Homo sapiens: one gene and its partner. The protein of the gene in region 1 interacts with the protein of each later gene in a biochemical or structural test. Each region holds a gene or a part of one and is shown in the gene's direction. Other genes may lie near its edges. The genes, in order: MKS1 and RNF34.

What was found.
Region 2: of the proteins of MKS1 (region 1) and RNF34, one has a biochemical effect on the other in vitro, tested with the Homo sapiens proteins (one study listed by BioGRID).

Annotation. Positions count from the first base shown.
Region 1 is NC_000017.11:58,212,236-58,216,255, reverse strand, and holds part of MKS1 (tectonic-like complex member MKS1), read left to right. Parts: intron 1-12; coding exon 13-168; intron 169-1,357; exon of another isoform or gene 1,358-1,417; coding exon 1,418-1,515; intron 1,516-1,868; coding exon 1,869-1,997; intron 1,998-2,386; coding exon 2,387-2,491; intron 2,492-3,165; coding exon 3,166-3,274; intron 3,275-3,821; coding exon 3,822-3,878; intron 3,879-4,020. UniProt on the Homo sapiens protein: Component of the tectonic-like complex, a complex localized at the transition zone of primary cilia and acting as a barrier that prevents diffusion of transmembrane proteins between the cilia and plasma membranes.
Region 2 is NC_000012.12:121,410,118-121,413,617, forward strand, and holds part of RNF34 (E3 ubiquitin-protein ligase RNF34), read left to right. Parts: intron 1-3,500. UniProt on the Homo sapiens protein: E3 ubiquitin-protein ligase that regulates several biological processes through the ubiquitin-mediated proteasomal degradation of various target proteins.

The DNA of each region.
Region 1 (4,020 bases):
TGGTAACCTCAGTTTGAAGTAGATCTGTACCAAAATGAAACAGCCTGTCAGAGTCCTTTGGATTATCAGTACCGTCAGGAGATCCTGAAGCTGGAGAATTCGGGTGGCAAGAAAAACCGACGAATCTTTACCTACACTGACTCTGATAGATACACCAATTTGGAGGAGGTATTGTTCTTTCTAGGGTCTCATAGCTTCCATCTTTGCTTCCTCTAGCTTTTTTGCCTCACTGAGTTCTGTGTGTTATGTCAGAGCCTAGTAAGGGGAGACAAGTAGCCTGTCTAGGAACTGCTGTGAGCTGCTGCTGCTGGCAGCCAGCCTGGAATAGAATGGGCACAGTCTACAGGTGGTGAGGCTGCTGCTCCCTTCTCTGCCTGCTAGAGGGCCTGGGGGAGCTGCCAGTATCTCTGATTATATGCTTGCAGAGTGCATACTGGGAGAAGTAACCACTGGGCTTGACTTCCTCCATGCATCATGAAAAAAGACAGGTAGTGGAGTCTGGAACAATATAGATAAAATTCATCAGGGGATTCAGCCCAAACTCTGAGTATATGGGTTTGAAGAGGAATTCAGTATAGCTATGGAAAATGGCTTATGTCCTCAATTTGCCTATGACAAAAATACCCTTGTGACCTTGTTTTACATTTTCTTCAGTCACTGCATTTCAGTTGCTTCTGTCTTCTCAGTAAGATTTTAAGCTCCTCGAGGGTAGAGCCTATTTTTTTTATTTTTGTCTATGACTCTGTAGGTCTCTGCAAGGAACAGGTATTCAATAAATGTTTTTGAAAGATTGACGTGCTTTCATTATTAGAGCTGTGGATTGATAACATTAGCTGGGCATGGTGGCATGTACCTGTAGTCCCGGCTACGTGGGAAGCTGAGGCGGGAGGATCACTTGAGCCAAGGAGTTCAAGGTTGCAGTGAGCTATGATAGCACCACTGCACTGCAGCCTGGGTGAGACCCTGTCTCTTAAAAAAATATATAAATTAAATAAAATTTGGGTTGTCTGTTTTGGAAAAGCAAATGAAAATGCAGTTAGTGCTCAGTTACCATGTGAGGATTTCCCACAAAATGCTTGTATCCCATTTGGCATTTTCTAACCACCTTGTTAACTTCAACATCTACCAAGCACACTAACCCAACTTTTTGTTGGTTTGTGCTCAGAGAATGCAGACTGATTTTAATATTAACATAAATAACTCCTTTTTAAAATCCAAAGGCAAACCATGATGTGGTAGAAATCTTCTTTGGGTTGTTTGGCTACTGCTCCCTCCGTTAGCATGTATAATTGTGAGGTGGCGGAACCTGTGGGGTTCAGGTCCTGGATGAGGTTTCAGGAGGAAGACTTCCCTTCAGGTACTTGGCTCCATGTGGCCCTGACCAGATGGCGTACACAGGGCTGCTTGCTTTTCCCAGCACTGTCAGAGAATGACCACTGCAGCCAGCGAGGTGCCTTCATTCTTGGTCGAGCGAATGGCAAATGTCAGGCGTCGCCGGCAGGACAGGCGAGGGATGTGAGTGCGGGCATGGGATGGGGGACAAGCTTTTACTTTTTATTTCCTAAAGTTGGGTAGTTTTGCATTTTTATCAGTGGTTATATATAGTATTCAAGTATTACTTTGTAATTAATTTAAAAAATAAATATAAAAATATAAAATATCTTCCTCACTCTTCATGTGGACATTTTTCCAAAGTGCCTCAGAGAGAGGGAAGGGATGTCATTTCTGTTTGTCAAATATTTTGGCTCTTAAAAAACAAAACAAAACAGTATGTCCACTAGCTCAAACTTCCCATTCTGAAGTGGCTCTCCACTGGGGTGCTCCATTGGGGTGTGCCAGGGAAGTGACCTTTCTGTGGTGTCTCCCAGGGAGGGCGGCATCCTCAAGTCACGCATCGTCACCTGGGAGCCCTCAGAAGAGTTTGTCAGGAACAACCACGTCATTAACACCCCTCTTCAGACAATGCACATCATGGCAGACCTGGGGCCCTATAAAAAGTGAGTGGCGCTTCTCACTGCCAGCTTAGAGCCTCATCCTTTTCTCCTCTCACCAGCTCTCCCCTTCCTGTTATTATCATCCTAGGTTATAGGGGAGGGAGGGACTTTTTCTTCCTTCTCTTCTTAGTTATGAGTGAAGCTTCTCACTGCCAACTCAGATCCTCATCTTCTTCTCCTCTCACCAGCTATCCCCTTCCTGTTATCATCCTGGGTTATAGGAGAGGAAGGGACTTTTTCTTCCTTTTTTTTCTTAGTTGTACTTGGAAGAAAGTTTTACCATGACAGCTCTCCCTATAGCCTCTGTTCTCTCCCCTGCAGTGGGCTCAGTATCTCTTCTTGTTTCCCTGAAGGACCATTGACCTCAACCTTGGTGTTTTCCTGATTTCTAGGCTTGGCTATAAGAAGTATGAACATGTCCTGTGTACTCTGAAGGTGGATAGCAATGGTGTGATCACAGTAAAGCCTGACTTCACGGGCCTCAAAGGACCCTACAGGTGAGGAGAGGAAGAAAGGGGTAGTGGAGACTGGCATTCCTTCCCTTGGTTGCACTTTTTGTCCCTAGTCAACTAGACTGTCAGAAAGTCCTTCATCTGTTCTAACTTTTACATTCCCAGGCAATGGTTCGTATTCTGTTCCAAGTCATAGGGCCTTAGAAAACCAGGGACTCCTTTCTCAGAAAATGTGCAACTGCACCAATTTGAAAGGGATCACTTCAGTGGTACAGTTAAATGACAGTGATTCTCTGTGCTGCTGAATGTAGGACCTGACCAGAACAGAGTGGGGTGAACTCAGCCAGGCTTTTCCTGTGGGCTGACTGTTCCTCATCTCTGTATCTTGGAAATGACAGAAATGTAAATTAGAAATTATCTGGCCCAACCTGTCCATTTTTCAGGTGAGAGAACTGGGTGGCAGGAATGTTGTGCCTTACAGTTTGACTGTAACTTCAAGCCAGAAATGGGCCCAGAACCTATACTTTCTGAGTCTAGTCTGGTGCCCTCTCTGCTTTACCCTTTTGTTTCTCTCTCCTGGTCGTCAATACAGCCACTTTTATCATCATATACTTTAGTGAGGTGTATGGCCCCTGATCGCTCATCCCTGGGCTGGGAGCTATCCCAGGGCCCATCTCTCATTATTAGAGTTGCTCCTTTCTGTGGTTTTGACCTTACAGGATTGAGACGGAGGGGGAGAAGCAGGAGCTGTGGAAATATACGATCGACAATGTTTCCCCCCACGCACAGCCGGAGGAGGAGGAGCGGGAACGGCGAGTGTTCAAGGATGTAAGCGCAAGTTCATTCCAAGTATCCAAGGGATGAGCCTCAGTGCCTGGAGCTGAGACCATTTCTGAACTTGATGTCAGCAGTTGCTCGGGAAAAGCCTTGCCCTTCATGGCCCCTTCTGACTTAGGCAGCATTGCTGACATATCAGACAGAAGTTTTTGATCATATTATAATAATAACAATAACCATTTATTTGAGCATTTACCATGTTCTGTGCTAGGTACTTTACATACCTTATTTCCTTTAGTCTTTACAACAACCCTTTGAGGTGAACACTTATTACCACCTTATAAGTGGGGAAACCGAGATTGAGGAGCTAAGTAGTCTGCCCAAGGTGGCATAGCTTGTAAGGGCGAGAGTCAGGATTCTGCCCCAGACCAGCTGACTCCAGGGCCTCTGCTTCACGGTAAAATGGCGGTGAGTCAGGTGCTTACGCCTCCAGCTCTTGCTGACCCTTCCCACTATTGCTTTTCTTCTTCCCATTCAGAACTGAACTTTGGTCTAGCTTGGGTTGCATCTTGAGTTTTGGTTTGGTTTGTTTCCTCAGCTTTATGGCCGGCACAAGGAGTATCTCAGCAGCCTCGTAGGCACCGACTTTGAGATGGTGAGTAGCTTGGCTTCCTGCAGCACTGTGAGCTGTGTTTAGCCGGAGCATTCTGACTGTGGATGAGTTACACTACCTCTCTTAAAGGCCCAAAGGTATACTCTACAGTGTGAAAAGGAAGTCAAAGAATAGCACATATAGT
Region 2 (3,500 bases), on another chromosome or scaffold:
CACTCCAACCTGGGCAACAAGAGCGAAACTCCGTCTCAAAAAAAAAGAAAAGGAATTATGTTCATTTCAGCACTGGGATGCCAGGAAATATGGGGCTTAAAGGGGAGATGGAAATTAAAATTTTCAAATATGCTGCATGGGGCTGGCGTGGTGGCTCATGCCTGTAATCCCAGCTCTTTGGGAGGCTGAGGCAGGCGGATTACGAGGTCAGGAGTTCGAGACCAGCCTGGACAACATGGTGAAACCCCGTCTCTACTAAAAATACAAAAATTAGCCGGGTGTGGTGGTGGGTGCCTGTAATCCCGGCTACTTGGGAGGCTGAAGCAGGAGAATTGCTTGAACCCGGGAGGCAGAGGTTGCAGTGAGCCGAGATTGCGCCACTGCATTCCATCCTGGGCAACAGAGCAAGATTCTGTCTCAAAACCACCAAAAAAAAAAAAATGCTGGATGGGAAAAAAAAAAATACTTCAAATATACTAGTGACAGGGGCTTCCCCTGCTTCAAATTTCTGAACTTTCCAGAAGGCTGGAGTGTTGCAAATGCTCCTCTCAGAGATGATAACTATAAGTGGATTTGCCCTTCAATATGATGCTAAGGTTATTCTCTCACTGGGAGATCATGTTCTCATTGGAAGATTTTGCCCAAATTTAAGTTCAGAGATTCTAATGAGGCTGCAACCTAAATTTTTCAGGATTGCTTCTTTACCTTCTATTCCTGTAGTATTTGGCTGACAGTAGTTAATATGTGTCTGAGTTGTACTGAATATTGGGTTATAGCAACATTTTTGCCTGGGACACTTTGGAGGTTGGCTTGGGCTTTTTTGTTGTTTGTTTTTGAGACAGGGTCTCACTCCGTCACCCAGGCTGGAGTGCGGTGGCGTAAGCATAGCTCACCATAGTCTCAACCTCCCAGGCTCAAGAGATCCTTTTGCCTCAGCCTCCGAGTAGCTGGGAGCACAGGCACATGCCACCACACCTGGCTAATTTTATTTTTTGTAGAGATAGAGTCTCCCTATGTTGCCCAGGCTGGTCTTGACCTGGCCTCAAACAATCCTCCCACCTTGGCCACCTAAAGTGCTGGGATTACAGGTGTGAGCCACCATTCCTGGCCTGTTTTTAATTTTTTATTTTATAATGAGGGCTAAATTAAGTGTTTTTCTTCATTTTCTTTCTGGGGAACAAAGAGGAAATTCCCTTCCTTGTATAGAAACGTGAGGAATGGGACAAAATTGTCCCCCTCCAAAATTGGTATCTACACAGAGAATCCATCTGTTTTCCCAAAATAAGTCCTTCTATTCCCTTTACCAGAGCTGTGTAGTTGAAAAAAAAATTTTCAGCCTAGAATTTTAATGCTCATACTCATTAACATGGTTTGAAAAATTGTATTCTTCCCTAATTCATTGTAAAACTATCCCTGATACAAAGGTCATAATCTCTGACAGTGCTGCTTTTAAAAAGGGGTGTCATTTGAGATTTTTGGTTTTCTTTACCAAGAAAACATATTTTGAACTTTCTAAATAGCATGTAAAATTTTATAATGTTACATTGTCTGTGAAGAGATAATAGGAATTTTTTACACAGTTACTTGTCAGTCATACCATGGTGGAAAGAGGAGCAGGAGAAAAAGAAGTTTTTGTCCATGAGGAACTTTCACTGTAGTCCAGGAGGCAACATCAGACATGAATTAGAAGGGGGATAAAAGCTAAGAGAGCTGTTGGTTTAGTAGCTACATTAGTAGGAAGCTAAACTTGTAAAACTGCACTTCTGTTAACCCTGGAATGAAGAGAAGTTTATCCTGGGAGTACTTTCTGCAGTTGAGGTATTTTTTTCCCCAAAAAATGTAACGTGCAAACTAAATTTTTTAGAACAAAGTTTTTCCAGTTTTAAGAGTGCATACTCTAAAGAACTGTGGATGAATCCTTTACTTAAAAGAACATTAACTTTATTATTATTAATTTTTTTTGAGATGGAGTCTCGCTCTGTCACCCAGGCTGGAGTGCAGTGGCGCAATCTTGGCTCACTGCAAACTCCGCCTCCTGGGTTCAAGCGATTCTCCTGCCTCAGCCTCCCGACTAGCTGGGACTACAGGCACGTGCCACCATGCCCAACTAATCTTTTTTTTTTTTTTTTTTTTTTTTTTTGAGATGGAGTCCCGCTCTGTTGCCCAGGCTGGAGTACAGTGGCGCAATCTCGGCTCACTGCAAGCTCTGCCTCCCGGGTTCACGCCATTCTCCCACCTTAGCCTCCCGAGTAGCTGGGACTACAGGTGCCCGCCACCACGCCAGGCTAATTTTGTTTTTGTTTTTTTAGTAGAGATGGGGTTTCACCGTGTCAGCCAGGATGGTCTTGATCTCCTGACCTCATGATCTGCCTGCCTTGTCCTCCCAAACTGCTAGGATTACAGGGGTGAGCCACCACGCCTGGCCTAATTTTTGTGTTTTTAGTAGAGATGGGGTTTTGCCATGTTGGTCAGTCCAGTCTCGAACTCCTGACTTCATGTGATCCACCCGCCTTGGCCTCCCAAAGTGATGAGATTACAGATGTGAGCCATTGTGCCTGGCTGAACACTAACTTTAAATTAACTCTTAGTGAATCTAGATGTTCATGCTTTTTTTTTTTTTTTTTTGAGATGGAGTCTCGCTGTGTCACCCAGGCTGGAGTGCAGTGGCGTGATCTCGGCTCACTGCAACCTCTGCCTCCTGGGTTCAAGTAATTCTCCTGCCTTAGCCTCCCAAGTAGCTGGGATTACAGGTGCCTGGGCCAGCTATTTTTGTATTTTTAGTAGAGACGGGGTTTCACCATGTTGGCCAGGCTGGTCTCGAACTCTTGACCTCATGATCTGCTCCCCCACCTCTGCCTCCCAAAGTGCTGGGATTACAGGCATGAGCCATTGTGCCCAGGCTATTTTTTTTTTCCTTCCTCTTTTCGAGGCAGAGTCTCACTCTGTCACCCAAGCTGGAGTGCAATGGTGCGATCTAGGCTCACTGCAACCTCCGCCTCCCCGGTTCAAGCGATTCTCCTGCCTCGGCCTTCCAAGTAGCTGGGATTACAGGCATCTGCCAATACGCCCAGCTAATTTTTTGTATTTTTAGTAGAGACGGCGTTTCGCCATGTTGTCCAGGCTGTTCTTGAACTCCTGACCTCAGGAGATCCACCTTCCTTGGCCTCCCAAAGTGCTGGGATTACAGGCATAAGCCACTGAGCCTGGCCAGATTTTCATGCTTTTAAGCACACCATGGCTGTAGAGTTTGAGGTATATAATCATTTAAAGGTATGGACTGTTATAATTTTACCTGTCCTTTTTTTTTTTTTTGAGACGGAGTTTTGCTCTTTTGCCCAAGCTGGAGTGCGGTGGCACAATCTTGGTTCACTGCACCCTCCGCCTCCTGGGTTCAAGCGATTCTCCTGCCTCAGCCTCCCGAGTAGCTGGGATTACAGAAGCCTGCCACCATGCCCAGCTTTTTTTTTTTTTTTTTTTTGAGATGGAGTCTCGCTTTGTTG